2 separate regions of the Homo sapiens genome follow, and region 2 is linked to region 1. Evidence: fine-mapped expression QTL. Tissue or cell type: lymphoblastoid cells. Region 1 holds a variant in brackets; the other region holds the start of a gene. All regions are shown on one strand. Distances are from middle to middle.

Evidence for each region. PIP is the estimated chance that this variant, and not a neighbour inherited with it, causes the effect.
Region 2: it holds the start of AKAP3, and the variant in region 1 is fine-mapped to the expression of AKAP3 in lymphoblastoid cells (GTEx, PIP above 0.99).

What each region holds. Positions count from the first base shown.
Region 1 is chr12:5,596,701-5,604,806 of GRCh38, forward strand. It overlaps ANO2 (anoctamin 2), which reads right to left. Exons shown (of 25, transcript NM_001364791.2): 20 at 2,784-2,929. Among named protein-coding and RNA genes, the nearest start is that of NTF3, 170 kb to the left of the region's middle. The variant G/A (reference allele first, on the strand shown) is at 3,643.
Region 2 is chr12:4,645,585-4,653,690 of GRCh38, forward strand. AKAP3 (A-kinase anchoring protein 3) reads right to left here and starts at 3,467. Exons shown (of 6, transcript NM_001278309.2): 1 at 3,161-3,467. NDUFA9 (NADH:ubiquinone oxidoreductase subunit A9) reads left to right here and starts at 3,530. Exons shown (of 11, transcript NM_005002.5): 1 at 3,530-3,591. The coding sequence starts at 3,543. RefSeq lists enhancers at 2,892-2,941, 3,222-3,431, 3,300-3,955.

The DNA of each region.
Region 1 (8,106 bases):
GTAGATGTGTATTCAGTGGCATGGCCCTGACAAAGTAGAGTATATTTCCCTAACTCTGCCTTCCTCAGGCTTCAAGACCATTAAGAGGAATAACACTGGACACTTAATACACAGCTTTTGTATGTGTTAGGCCCTCTTCTAAGCACTGTATTAGCACTAAGCACTAAGACCCTCTTCTATTCACAGATACTAATTCATTCACTACTCCTGACAATCCTATTATATTATTATCTTTTTTTAATAGGCAAGCAAATCAAGACACATAGGAGTCTTGATAAGGGCAAGTGGGTAACTTACACAGGGTTACCCAGCTAGTTGGTCAAAAGCTGGGATTTGAGCCCAGGAAGTATGGTTCAAGGGTCTCTGCTCCTCTTTGTTGTATTTTAATGTTTTATTTCTCTTTTTTTAACTTTTAAGTTTAGGGGTGCAAGTGCAGGTTTGTCACACAGGTAAACTTGTGTCATGGGGGTTTGTTGTACAGATTATTTCATCACCCAGGTATTAAGCCTAGTACCCATTAGTTCTTTTTCCTGATCCTCTCCCTCTTCTCATCCCCACCCTCTGATGGGCCCCAGTGTGTGTTGTTCCTCTCTGTGTGTCCATGTGTTCTCATGGTTTAGCTCCCACTTATAAGTGAAAACATCCAGTATTTGGTTTTCTGTTCCTGCATTAGTATGCTAAAGATAATGGCCTCCATCTCCATCCATGTTCCTTCAAAGAACACGAACTCATTCTTTTTCACGGCTGCATGGTAGTCCACAGTGTACTACGTTTTCTTTACCCAGCCTATCATTGATGAGCATTTAGGTGGAATGTATTCTTTGCTATTATGAACACGTCTATATACATAAACTAGAAAACTTTGGGGTCTCTGCTCTAATCACCCAAAAGAGGAAGCTTTGAAATAGCTGAACAGACAAGGTTGACAAGCATGTGAAACCCACACAGCTAATTGGTGGCGACGGAAGTGGGACCACTGGCGTCAGAGGGTGGAGGCAGACAAACAGATCTCAGGGGTTCCTAATGTAGGCCCTTCCCCAAATGGAAGTCCCAATCTCTGGCAGCACTTTCTTTCATTCTGGGTGAGAGAATGGCAGATGTAGAATGGCGTCTGAAATATGAGCAATATCCTTTGTGTAAATACAGCATCAGAGAGGGATTAGAGGTAGCTCTTAGCCAAACATGAAAGGCATAAAGGGGCTACACGTTTCCTTAAACCAGGTCTTGATATTTTCTTTACATATTGTTTCTGAAGCAGACTTAATGATTGTTTGTTCTCTGGTGAGTTGTTTCAGATTACAAAGTTGAGGCTTTCCCTAGAATTGTAGACATCCCAGGGCTAGGACAATATTTCCATGGCCGTCTGATCTAGACCCTGCCCATTACTCCACTGCTAACAAACACATGCAATTTCCTATAACAGAATAGGAGGAATGCCCATTAGAAATGATGAGTGAGGTAGCCTGTGCACAAAAAGGTACTGACGGCCCTCTGCTACAAGTGACTAGGTGAAGGGAGCAGGAGTCATATGCAAACACAGTGATAGGTGCAATGATACTAAGCACTGAATTAAACATTGAGTGATTTTTTTGATGGATCTTATTGATGGTTCCCCATTGAGTAAATGTTTAGAATGTTTAGACATTATAGCTAAGATCTTTATTTATTTATTTTTGAGACAGACTCTCATTCTGTTGGCCAGGCTGGAGTAGTGACACAATCTCAGCTCAGTGCAAGCTGTGTCTCCCAGGCTCAAGCAATTCTCGTGCCTCAGCCTCCCAAGTAGCTGGGATTACAGGTGCCTGCCACCATTCCTGGCTAATTTTTGTATTTTTAGTAGAGATGGAGTTTCACCATGTTGGCCAGACTGATCTCAAACTCCTGACCTCAGGTGATCCACCTGCCTCTGCTTCCCAAAGTGCTGGGATGACAGGCATGAGCCACTGCGCTCGTCTTATACCTAAGCTCTTGATCTTTGGTATCCTATGCTTTTAATTCATTAGCCCCAAGTCTTGGAAAGAGACTTCTCAAACATCCATCCCAATAGAAGATCAGGATTATAGTCAAGTAGCCAACAGTGCAAAGGCAGCTGGCCTAAGTTGGGACCCTTCTCATAATAAAGAACTCATGGCTTCCAAGCCACATCTAAAATGATTGTGTTCCATCAGCCTGTACTACATGTGCTCCTGCCTTCAAGCCTTATCGAAAACAACTAGAGGCTCTGCAACTAGAAATACACCTCTCACTCCCTACCGAAATAGACCCAACTTTTGTTAAAAAGCTTTCATCTTATCCAGCCTTATCTGATCAAAGTAGGGGATGCTCTTATATATTCTCCAAGTCAAAATGTAGATATCCTTGACCCAAGTGTCATCGGATACTTTCCATGAAGGAAGACTTTCATGGAAACTATATTCTTAAATTTCAGATTGTACTATTTCCCTTTCAGCTTTATCAATAATAGAAACCATGGAAAGGGGCCTGAGAGATCAAACTTTAGTTTATAGATGAGGAGAGGAATCACAAGGAAAAGAGAACATCATCCTAGAATTATCCACCAAACTGTTGACTGAGCTGCTCCAGGTTCTCCTCCCAGGTCTCTTTCTGCCCCATTCTTCTCAACTTTCATGTGGCACTGAAGGGAACACTGAATAGCCATGAAGCTCATGAAGAAGCAGAGGCTGTCCCAGTCATTTTCCCCAATCCCCTACCTTCCCCCTTCAACCCCACAGACCCCTTGTCTGAACCTGCCCCCAGTGGAAGGCAGGACCATGGGTTCTCACTCATTTCCATGTACTCCGGAGTCAGTCCTGTGTATGGTTCCAAGCTGTAGTCTAGGTCCCACTGCTCTGGATGTTTCGAATGGGCAGAGTCAGTTTCTCCAGCTTCGGTCTCATCTTTCAGCTTTCGAAATAGTTTCTTTAGCTTCCTGGAAAAGAAATGGATTAAGTTACAAAAAGCCTCTGGAGAACAGGGTTGGTTTTGCAGACAGAAAAAAGAAAAAGAACACAAAAGTTTTGACACTAAAGCCATCTCTGATCCAAAAACAAGTAGAGATAGAGAGACACTAAAGAGACTACTTTTCTCCTAAAGGCAACCTGAGGAAGTCCTTTATAAAGATCGTGCAGACTCCCTCCACAAAGGATGAGGTTTCTTCAAACCCCAAAATACTTTTGAATTCTTCCTGCTGTCTGACAAGCAACAAGAGAGTTGGCCCTTCCTGCCAATGCTGAGACGGCACCAGTCCTATTGTCCAACAGGTGATCTATCCACCCTCTTCATGGGGGAACACAGGTCTGTTCTCCTCCTAGGTGAAACATTTTTCAGGTCTCAATAACATTAATAGCATCATCTTTCCATTAAAACCAAGCTAAACATTGCCCACCACTACTATGGACTGAATGATGTCTGCTGAAATTCATTTGTTGAAGCTCTAATCCCCAATGTGACTGTATTGGGAGATATGACTTTTAGGAGGTAATTTAGATTAAATAAGGTCAAAAAGGTGGGGTCCTAATTCAATAGGATTGGTGGCTTTATGAGTAGAGGAAGAGAGAAAGGGATATCTCAAGACCATCTGAGGACACAGAGAAAAGGCAGCTACCTGTAAGAAGAGCCCTCATCAGAAATTCAACCCTTTTC[G/A]ACTTTGATCTTGAAACTTTCAGCCTCTAGAACTATGAGAAAATAAATTTCTGTCAGTTAAGCCTATGGCATTTTGTTACAGCAGCCTGAGCAGACTAAGACAACTACATTCAGGACTTTTTTGGTGTAGAATGATAATAATGGCCCAATTTCTCAGGGTTGAAATAAGAATTAAGTGAAACAATGTTTATACAGTCCTTAGCACAATATCTGGACACAGTAAGCATTGAATAGATGATACCTGTTATTATTTTTAATACCGAATGCTAAAATACACCTTAGGGTGGAGTTATTTCATACTTCCCATTGATGCACAATGTACAGGGAATGGAATTGCAGTTTTTGCAATTACTTTTTAATGGCAAAAACTGCAATTACTTTAAGCAGCAACCTAATAGTTGGGAGACAGTAAAATGGTAAGAATCAAAGACTTGAAGTGTTTAAACGGGATTTTGAAGTCCATGCTTCATCTGGATGTAGGAACCTCCCCATGTCCCCCAACATTCTTCACCCAAGACCACCCAACCCCTGTGTAGATATTTCCAGAGGAGCACTTCTGGTATGATTAGGCATCCCATCCTTGTTTGAAAGTGCCTCTAACAGCTAATGAAAATCTAATAGTTCAAAATAATGTTTTGATCAGTTTCTGGTCTAATATTCCTATTTCCTATCAAGAGGATGTAGTATAGTGGATAAAAGTCTCATCTTTGGTGCCAGAAATTGTATAAAACCAGATTTCACAAATCACCAACTATATGTCCATGGGCAAGTTATTACAACTCTATAAGCTTTAGTTTTCTTATCTTTAAAATGGAGAAATAAATATTAACTTGCCCACAGGGTGAGTTAAAAGACATAATCTATACAGCATGCTTCATTTAGGGCTTGATACATGTTAAGAGCATGTACCAAGATACATGCTCTGATAGACATTTATCAAGATAAATAAAGATAGACAAATATATCATTGTTCCTATTATCATCTTTATCACAGAAGGATTTAAAGAGTGAGCTGAAATTCTTTAGAATTTCATAAGAAAAATTTCATAGTAAAAAATTTCTAAGAAAAAAGTAAGCAATAATTCTGTGATAATAAAAAATTGAAAAAAAACTAGATGGAGCCTACAGATTCTGAAGCTAAATATGTGAGCTGGTTGTGATCCTGTCTGTGAGTCAGAACAGAAGGAGAAGATGCAGGAAAAATCAAAGAGAGAGAGAAGAAAAGAAGAAAGGAAAGTGAGGGAAGTCTAGAACCAGAATTCAAAGTGAGACTTCTCCTCCATGAACAGTAATCAGACGACGTGTTCAAATCTTTAGTAAAAAATTAGTGGTTTTGATTATACATAGAAAATTGAATATAAACATATATTTATCCACTTCTGAAATGCCACTAAAATACCAATGAATGAATTTTAAAAAGTATAAAACCACAAATTAATGAAAATAGTCATGAATATAGTAGTGTGTGAGGAATGTTGATGAATATCTTGGAAGACGGACAGTGTACGAGGGAGTCAGCAAAGCTGTGTGACTGGTATCAACTGTTCACAGTGGAAGATGGTAGAGAGAAACAAGCCAACTCATGCTGTAAATCTCAGAAAGGCTCAGGAGTTGGAGGCACCAGGTATCCCCAAGGCAGGGGGTGGTGACTGGTCAAAGCTCTGCTTAAGGAACAGTAGACGCCAATGGCTCTGTACGCATGTTGCCTAGGTGACTAGCACTTCCCAATACCAACAGGGGCAAGAAGTTTATTCTGAAGAGAAAAATGAGCCAGGAAAAATCTAGATCTGAAATGAATTCAATAAAATGACAGAAAGATTAAAATCAATACTATCTCTCGGAAAAAAAGTAGAACAGACATAGAAATGGACAATAGGAAAGAAAACATTAAAAAATTAATTGATCTAGGAACTCTTTTTTTTTTTGAGACAAGAGTCTTGCTGCATAGCCCAGGATGGGGTGCAGTGGTGTGATTTCGGCTCACTTCAACCTCTGTCTCCCAGGCTCAAGCTATCATCCCACCTCAGCCTCCCAAGTAGCTAGGACTACAGGCATGCACCACCAGGCCCAGCTAATATTTTTTGTATTTTTAGTAAAGACAGGGTTTCACCATATTGCCCATGCTGGTCTTAAACTCCTGGGCTCAGATGATCCACCCACTTAGGCCTCCCAAAGTACAAGGATTACAAGCACGAACCACCACACCCGGCCTGAAACTCCAACACTTAATCAGAAAGAGAAGACAGAGACAATGGTGGGGAAGAAAGTGCAAAAGAAATAAAAGAAAATGTCCCAGAGGTGAAGGACATGCATTTTCTGATTGGAAGGACCCACTCAGCATAATGGTGAAAAAAAAGCCTCCAGCAAAACATATCGTCATGAGATTTCAGAACTTTAGGAATAATGGAAAGGATTCTAAAAGCTTCCAGATCCAGAGAAACAAACATAGATCCTCTACAAATAATTGGGAATCAAAAATAGGTTACAATTCTCCAGATCAGCCCTTGACACTAGAAGACTCTGCAGAAATGTATTTACATTCAGAAGGCAAATAATTTTCAGCATAGACTCCTATACCCAGCCAAAGTATAGACGAAAGTCAAAGACAGACTAAAGACACTTTTAAGTATGCAAGGTTTCAAAAAAATGAACTTTTTATGCATGCATCCATTCTCATGAAGCTCCTGGAGGATGAATTTCACCAACCAAGGATATAAAGCAAGGAAGAAAACATACAGAATCCAGCAAACAGAAACCCCACAAAAGAAAGAAGGTATTGAAGCAACTCAGCTTGATAGCTCTATAGAAGGTTTAGCAAATGAGCAGTTCTGGTTTGCCCGGGAGAACAGAGGATTCCTAGAAATCATCTCCAGGAAAAAAAAATGTGACTAATAAGACATGTGATGTGTTTGATGAAATAATCTCACTGGCAATGGGGACATTTAAACAAAAGTGACCAATAACGACCAATAAAACAAGAGTGACCAATATAAGAGTGTTATAAAGGGAGAAGTTTAGTGATTATGAGAACATAAAAGTCCTAACCTGGCCTAAGGCAGCGAAGTTCTCTTTGAGGAAGAGATGTGTAAACTAACTTAATTTACTAAATAAATAATTTACTCTTACTATTTAAGACTAAATAATGAAAGATGGTAGAAGAAGAAAGAGAAAGGTGGAGAGAGTGTGAGGGGCAAAGAGGTTATTCTAGGCAGGGAGAGTTATTTATGCAACAGCCTAAGGCAAATGTGAAAATGGCTCATAGAAAGGACTGAAGGGAATTCAAAATGCTTGCAGCATAGAGTACAATCAAGAAAATGATGAGGCCGGGCGCAGTGGCTCACGCCTGTAATTCCAGCACTTTGGGAAGCCGAGGCGGGCAGATCACGAGGTCAGGAGATCAAGACCATCCTGGCTAACACGGTGAAACCCCGCCTCTACTAAAAATACAAAAAATTAGCAGGGCACGGTGGTGGGCGCCTGTAGTCCCAGCTACTCGGGAGGCTGAGGCAGGAGAATGGCATGAACCCGGGAGGCGGAGGTTGCAGTGAGCTGAGATAGCGCCACTGCAGTCCGTCCTGGGTGAAAGAGCGAGATTCCGTCTCAAAAAAAAAAAAAAAAAAAAAGAAAATGATGAAAGGTAAGTCTTGAAAGGTAGTGTAGGCTCATGGCATCAAAGACCTTGTACACCATATTATGCAGTGGTTCAGGCGAGAGATTATGGTAGCAGAGTCTGGGGTGATAGCAACGGACATGAAGGGAAGTAGATATATTTGAGACATGCATAAGAGGTAGAATTAAAAAGTGGATGGTGGATCGTACACAGAAGGGAAGGACAATGAGGAATCAGCGATGATTCTCATGGTCTTAGGGCATGTGTGTGGTTGGTGGTGCCGATGGCTACGATAGAGAATACAACGTAAGAGGCAGTTTTGATGAGGATGAGGAGGAGGAGGAGGAGGAGTTGTTCTTGCCATGTCTAAGTGGGGAAACCCACGAGACAACTAAGTAGAGATGTCCAGTAGGCAACTGCATATCTGTGCCTAGAGCCCTGGAACGATCTGGGACTGATGGAGATCTGAGAATCATCGTGGAAAGAGCGGCGGAAGCCCTAGGAATGAGCAATGCCAACTATGGATAGAGCGTGCGTCAGAAAAGTTATGGGATGGGATAGAGGGAAAGGAGCCTTCAAAGGACAAAGAAGGAGAGTCATGGGAACAGAAGGCAACTGTAAGACTGTGTGGCAAAGGCAAGGGAAGACACAGGGGCTACGGGAGGGGCTTTGTGATCAAAGTCCCATCCAGTGTGGGTAGGTCAAAACAAATGCAGGGGAAAATATCCACAAATAGTCCTGTGAATTTATCATTCCCAGATTTCCTCCTGGATATCCCAGTGACCATTAAAAAAAATAATAATAAAGGAAGTCCCTCCAGAGCAGAATTTAACAGGAATCCTGGAAGTTGTATA
Region 2 (8,106 bases), 950 kb before region 1:
GACAGATCATCAGGCACTAGATTCTCATAAGGAGTGCACAACGTACACTTTCCACAATAGGGTTCAAGCTCCTATGAGAATCTAATGCCACCACTGATCTGACAGGAGGTGGAGCTCAGCTTTGCTCACTTGCTCACCATTTACCTGCTGTGTGGCCAGGTTCTAAAAGACCATGGACTGGTACCGGTCCATGGCCTGAGGGTTGGGGACCTCTGCTTTAGAGTGTTTAATATAGGTGGGGGAATACGGGAAGGGGACATTTTGCCAATGGATTCCACTTAAAGCAGCAGAGTAAGTATTATGTATTAACAAATCTAGAGGACGGCAGAGGAGAATGAGAAATAAAAGAATTGAGGGTCTAAATTTTATGCATATCCCATGGAATCACTTCATTTTGTCAGATCCAGCCAGGACTCTTTTTATTTATAAGCATCTTGCCTTCTGTAAAAAAATTATTTTTAGGATATTTTGCCTAAACTGACCATCTCTGGGTTATAATTTGTCTTAGATCTTCAGAGATACAATAACCCTATTTTATCATTTGCAATGCCTGACCTGAGAAACTGTAGTGGGAAAAATCACACCAAGAGGCATTTGGTTAGCTACTCTTTCTATGCTTTATTACTACATTCTCTGAAAATGTTACCTCAGCTACTCTGTAATTAATGATTAAATATAGGACTAGTATATAGTTTCCATGGAGCAAAAAGAAATTCCAAGCATGGCCACGAGATAATGATGAAAATTGCAACAGATTCAAAAGCGGCTGGTTTATCACAGGGTTCCTTCAAAAAAGTTATTTATCGCTGGGCACAGTGGCTCACGTCTGTAATGCCAGCACTTTGGGAGGCTGAGGCAGGCGGATCACTAGAGGTCAGGAGTTCAGGACCAGCCTGGCCAACATGGCAGAACCCTGTCTCTACTAAAAATACAAAAAATTAGCCAGGCATGGTGGTACACGCTTGTAATGCCAGCTACTCGGGAGACTGAGGCAGGAGAATTGCTTGAACCTGGGAGGCGGAAGTTGCAGTGAGCAGAGATAGCACCATTGCACTCCAGCCTGGGTGACAGAGTGAGACTTGAAAAAAAAAAAAGTTATTTATCCATTGATGATCTTTTATATTGTCTCAAGAGCTTTTGTATTCTTTTCACAGAAAGTGCACCTACTAGTCAAATTATATTTGTCAAAATATCTCAGTTTCTTTTTTCTTTTTTTTGAGACAGAGTCTCAACTCTCGCCCAGGCTGGAGTACAGTGGCACGATCTCGGCTCACTGCAACCTCCGCTTCCCAGGTTCAAGTGATTCTTGTGCCTCAGTCTCCCGAGTAACTGGGATTACAGGTGCACACCACCACACACGGCTAATTTTTGTATTTTTAGTAGAGGCTGGGTTTCACTATGTTGGCCAAGCTGGTCTCGAACTCCTGACCTCAAGTGATCCGCCTGCCTCGACCTCCCAAAGTGCTGGGATTACAGGCATGAGCCACCGCACCTGGCCTCTTCGTCTTTGAAATAATGGGGCTTGCTGAGCTCCTAAAATCTCTTCCAGCTCTAACATTCTATGATTTTGATACTTCAGTGGTATTTGAATAGTACTGCATGGACCTACATATAGCACTTTACGGGTGACAAAGCATCTTTGCATCCATTACGCCACCCGATTCTCATAATAACCTTTTGAGGTACCAGGGTAGGTTTTATTTACCCTGTTAGACAAGTGTAGAAACTTGTCCAGGTCACAGCTAACGAATGACAAAACTGGGGATGGGATCTAGTATTCTAGGTGTTAAAAATCGGTGTTCTTTCAGTTGGGCACAGTGACTCATGCCTGTAATCCCAGCACTTTTGGAGGCCAAGGTGAGAGGAGGTCTTGAGCCCAGGAATTTGAGACAAGCCTGGGCAATACAGTAAGACCCCATCTCTGAAAAAAAAAAAAGTCAGTGTTCTTTTAATTACACCATGCAACCTTGAAACTAGAACTGAGAACATGAGGCAGTGTTTAACTTAGAGATTTTAAATTATATAATTGGCAGTGTTATACAGGAGTAAGCAGGTTGCTGATGACAGTCAGGATCTGTTGATCCGAACAAGGAAAGTATGTTAGTATCCATATTGGTCCCAAAATCAAGTATTAGCAAATTGTGTTAAGTGAACATAGGATAAGGCCAAGAAATATGACAGTGTAGCGTTACTACTAAGCTTCTCCGATGAAATTCAAGGTTTTTTTCTCTCTTCCAATTCAATTTGTTAGGCGACACTTCAGTAAACAGTAGGGGCAAGATAGAGTGGAAACAGCCAAGATTTCAAGCCTAGTAATAAGCAACTTCTACATCCCTACTCATCACAGGCCTTTTTGTCTATCCCAGAAACACATACTTTTCCTGAAAAAACAAAGCACTGGAAGGATTACCAAGTCTAGAAAGAACCCGCCCTCCCCAAACTAGGTGGTTTTCTGATAAGCCTAAGGTATGTTTCACAGGATCACTGGTTGCCATCTCCTACCCAGCAATCTGGAGAGGTTGACCAGAATAAAGTATTTTAAAATCCAAGCGCTTAGTCTAACCTGGAATTTCCTCAGTTTCTAGATGGCTCTTTGTAGAACAATGCAGATTCTCAAAGGTGACCACAGTTAAAGAAAAAATTACAAGCCATTGCGCTAGAGAGAGCCATCTGCAGTTTCTCCTTAGACAGATGTTCAGATGGCACACATGGCCACTAAATTTGCATAATATTTCAGGAAGTTCACAGATTTCCCGAAGCCCACTCATGAATCACACTTCTGGTTAAGAACTCCTAGATTCATATGCTAGTTGGTGATAAGTGCTTTGGTATATAAACTTAAACCAAAAATTGGTGGAATAATTACCACCTTGGATAGGATGGTCAGAGAAGTTTTATCCGAAGAGGTCACTTTTGAGCAGAGACTTGAGCTGGTGCAGACACCTGAGTGTGCATTCCAGGAAACGCGAACAGCAGGCGCAAGGGTCCCTATGAGAGAATGTGCTTGGCGGGCTCGACGCACATTTATTTACTTGGGACACACCCTATTTTGGTTTCTCTTCTCCACTTTTCCCCTCGTTCTTGTCCCCCCTTTTCTCTCTCCTGGGCCCTGGATCTCCTGAGCGCGGAGGGCTACGCCTCCTTCTTCCTCCGGACTCACCAGGGCTGCCAGCTTAGCTTACATTTTCAGGGAACAGGAAACTGAGAGTCAGGAAAGGTGAGCTCTTCTACCTCGGGTCTTGCCATTTTGCATGTCCTGAGTCAGTCACTGGTTAACTCTGAACTTCAGGTTCCTCGGCAATTAGAGATTATAAATAGCCTATACAGCCTATTCCAGATCTGAGATTCCAACAGCCAAAGTCTTTTCACTTCCTTTCTTCCCCCTCTCCTTCACTTTCCCAGCTTTCTTCTTAACCAACAATCTACCCGAAACCGTCGTTTCTTGGTTAGCGCTTGCGCAGACAGGCGAGAAAGGTAAGTTTTGACCCAGCTTAGCAGCCGTAGTCAGCCGGGAGTGCTGTCGTGGGGGATTGTGGGAAAAGATGGCGGCTGCCGCACAATCCCGGGTTGTCCGGGTCCTGTCAATGTCACGTAAGTGTTACCGGGAACGGCGGCCCCTGGTCGGGATTCCGAGACGGGGATTTAAGGTTTTGGAAGTGGCACCGTGCTGCAGCGGTCACGCCAACTTCCTAGGCACACTCTGGTTTCTCTAGGTTTGGAGCTGCCTCAGTCTGGTTTCTCCTTTCGCTTTCCGCTTCCCCGGCTCACATATTCAATTGTGCACCACCTTGGGAGGGGACAAAAGATCTTAAGCAGCTGTAAGCGAAGAGGAGAATGCGGGGGACACGTTAGGGATCGAGAGAATCAGAATTCTGATATGGTTGTAAGGGTTTAGGGTTATGAGAAATATTTGTATGGGGCGGGGGGAGAAATGTGTAAGGGAGGGAAAAAAGGCTAGTGGCGAGAGGTTTTCTTAGATTGATTTTATGACCTTGTGCAAACCCTTAATGGGTCTCAATTCATATGAGCACAATGGAAATGATAATATTACAATACCAGGGAGTCTCTGATAAGATTAAATGAGCTAATATTTGTAAAAGCATCCTTTTACCCAAAAGCGTCTCTACGGATGTAGAATGTGTTCGGCAAAGTGCGTTGGGGTCTGGGGGAGAGAGTGATGTTTGAGGAGAGAAGAATCAGGAGCTTGGTGGAAAGGAAAGTGAAGAATGAAGGCTATGTTAGAATTTGTTAGCATTATTTAGTTTCTCTTCTGTTCTGATTGGATCTGCTCCCACTCCTCAAACTGAAAACATACATTTGTCCTTCCACTCACTAAAAAGCAAGGAAATTAGAAATACGGTTACACTTCATCATTGTCCTTTCACCCTCTACTCTTCCACAAACATATTCCAATCAAACCCCCAAAGTTGTATTTTTCTTAGTGTATTTTAGTCGTTACAGAATATCATTTGCTTTCAAAATTGGCTCATGTCAGAATCACTCGTAAAGCTTTATAAAAATTAGAAATGAGGACTGAGTGTAGAGCTATTGAGTCAGAATTTGTGAGATTAGCTCCTTGCACCTTAAATTTTTAAAAGCACCACAGATAGGCTTGATGTTCAGCCTGAGGCAAGAATTAGGAGTGTTTAGAGGATCCTTTTTTTTTTGTTTTCCATCTTGGGTAGAACTCCTGCATACCACTGGGAAGGTGGTGGTGCACATCACTTATAGTGGATGGTTTTGTAGTCACAATGTCTTTGCAAAGACATTTGCTGGTTCTTGTTAAACTATTACAATTGTATGACGTAATGTAGATTGTGAATGGTAATCACTATTTATTGAGTACCTGCTATCTGCAATCTCCAGTTCTAGGTATTTTTATTAATTTTCCTCTTTTAACTTACTTTCCTCTGACTGACACCATAGCTTGTGTTCTTAACCACTCTGCGTTATTGTCTGGTAAAGTAAGTTTTTGAGTAAATTCTGTAGAGGCAAGTCTAGTATGTAACATAATCCACACACTATAGGACAGAACTGTGTAAGACAACTATATATAGTTAAGTGTGGCAAGACTATTAAGTATCACAGGAAATCATAAAAGGGAAAGATTAGTATCATTTGAGGTACTGAGGGATGATTGGAAGACCAGTGGAGAATTGTAGTGCTCCCACTGGTCTCTTTAGGGCTGTTATGATCTGGAAAGTCCTCTGGCAAAGACAAGTGGGTGAGAATGGAGTCATGAGGTATTCAAGAGGCAGTGAAATGACTACCTGAATATCTGGGATAGTGGAAAAGGAGGTTGAATGTGTTAGATGGGATCAGACAATGGAGACCTTTGAAAGCCAAGCAGAGTTTAGATCGGTAGTCTCCAAAGGGAGTTGTGCAAGAGGACCTAATAAGTTGTGGAAATATAAATTAGAACTCCTAAAAATTGCTTTCTATAGTAATAATAGCTAACACTTATGTAGTTTAAACTGTATGCCACACACTATTCTAAGTAATGTATGATTTATAATGTGTATATCATATTGGTACTACATAGAACGTGCATATAATTTTTTAAATAAATACTTAAAAAAATTAATGCAGTGTGCAAGCAAATATGTCTGGACTATTGGTTTGGGTATTGCAGTAGGAAACTAATGTAGGTTTTTAAGCAGAGAAATATAATGAATATATAATTAATAAAGAATATCATTCTTCTAATAGTACTCATAATAAATGGAAGAAAGTGGAGAGGCTGGAACCAAAGAGAGTAATAATTTATATTTATTGAGCACCTAGTATTTGCAAGGCACTGTGACAGATGCTTGCCCATATGTTATTCTCATTAACCCTTTAAACTGTGAGCTTCATGAAGCCAGGGTTTTGTATTTTACTGTGATAGTCACAGTTTCTAGAATAATTCTTGGCCCATAATTATTAAAAAAAAACAATAGCCATGTGAGGTTAGTGTGACATTACCTTCTGAGAAATTTCAAAGTAATAAAAGCAACTATTATTCATAGAATGCTTAATGTGCTCTAGGTAATGTGCTACGTGGTTTATGTATGTTTAATCCTCTTAACAGTCCTTTGAGGTATTAATTCCTCAACTCAAGTAATTCTTCCCAGTTCATTGACTCTGCCATCTTTTGCCTGTCTTATCCTATGTCCTCATTTCCTTACTCTTCACTCTTATCATTCCCTTTTATGCATCCTCAACTCCCCAGCCCAACTCCCATTGTCGTAAAAAACATTGACCCTGATTAAACAAAACTTTCCACGTAATTTGCTGCCTGCCACTGAGCAATGGAGAACGGGGCTAGGGAAAACTTCAGACTAACTGGCCTTATTTTAAATTCATGAATACAAATCTCAAGTAGATTTTCAGTGCTACATTTTTCTAGGAAATTTGGTTTCCTTGTCTCCATAATCATTACTTAACATAGCGAGTTTCCTAAAACCTCTAACATGTGCTTTTGTCTCATTCTCAGCTTTACAGAGAAATCAAAGGAATCAGATGAGAACAGTCATTTTCCCACCATAAACTCTAATAGTTGATATGTGATAATTCTTTGCCTTTTCTCTTGTTACAGTGGGTGAGCTCCTTCTGTTCCAATCTGTGGCCAGTTCCTTCACTTTGCATTCAATCTTATCCTCTCTCAACTATTCATTCCCTTTCCTGAATCAGTAATTTTCTACCTCTACCATGGAAATCATGTCATTTCCATCAGCACATAAATGTTAACTCATATTTAAAACAAACAAACAAACCTATTCCTGTCCTTGTTTTCTCTAGTTCCATTTCTCCTTTTTCAGAAGGATTGTGTATACTCCTCATCTACTTCCTTGCCTCACAGCCTCTCTTGTTTGCTCCAGTCTGGCTTTCAGTCCCACTAATCCAATAAAATTGCTCTTATTTATGCCACCTACAGCCACATCCTCCAGCTTCTGTGGTCCTCTGTCCTCTTCCTACTTCACTTTCAGCATTTGGTAAAGTTAACCATTCTCTCCTTGAAACAGTTTCTTATTTTGGGTTTTTAGATTCTGTTTCCTTCTGAGTTTTTCTCCTACCTCATGGGACTGCTTTTTAATCTCCTTTACTAGTGCTTTGGGCTAGTCACTAACCTTATCCATAAAGTGGTGATAAAGATAGCATTAAAAAAGATAATACCTATGCAGCACTTAGAATAATGCTGGACACCTGCCAAGAGCTCTGTAAAGGTAGCTGTTAATATGATGTTATTATTTTGTTATTATGATGTGTGGTCCATGATGTTTACTTTTAATTTCTGTCACTATCAGTGAGCTAGGCTATTTCTCCAATTCAATACTTTTGGATAGGGAAGAACAATGACCTTTGGGCAGAATGCCACCTGAAAGTCATCCCTAGAAACAAACACAGATTTTCTAAAGAAAGTCCTGTTTGTGTCTTTCACCTCTCCCAAGTGTACAAAGCACGAATGCTAAGCTCCGAAGTTTGTTGATTGGAGCAGAAGTGCGTTAGCACTTTAAACCTTTTTGTTTCTACTTACATGAAAGTTGAGCAGCTAACTCTAAAATTCTATTCTAAGGAGTTAGCAATAACTTGAAAACTGGAATGTATCCAAAAGAGATTCTCATTCCTGCCATATGAAGAATATTTGACAGGACAGGGAATGTTTAACCTGGAGAAGAAAATATTTAGTGGGGCTATAATTGCTACACTTAATTGTAGAAGAGGGATTAGACTTGTTCTTTGTCATTCTGGAGGAACACAGGGATAAAAACTTCTGGGAAGCAGTCACTGATTCCCCTTGTGGTAGAACTTTCTTTCTGTTAGAATGGCTCAAAGCAGAATGGGCAGCTACAGGAAGTAGTGAGTTTCCCAACTCCACAGGTGTTCAGGCAAAAGCCAGATGATTTCTTTGCACACATGCTGTAGAGAAGATGTAAGCATTGGTACATGAACTTTGAGGGTTCATTCTAGTACCAAGAACCTCAGTCAATGAAAAAGAAATGGTGGAATGTTTGACAAGTCTCTTGCTGTTAAACTTTCTAAAAGTCAGAATATCTTTTCTCAAGCACTTCACTCCTTTTATCATTATTTGTGATGTTCTTCAGTGGTTTTATAGTAAGTCTGAAC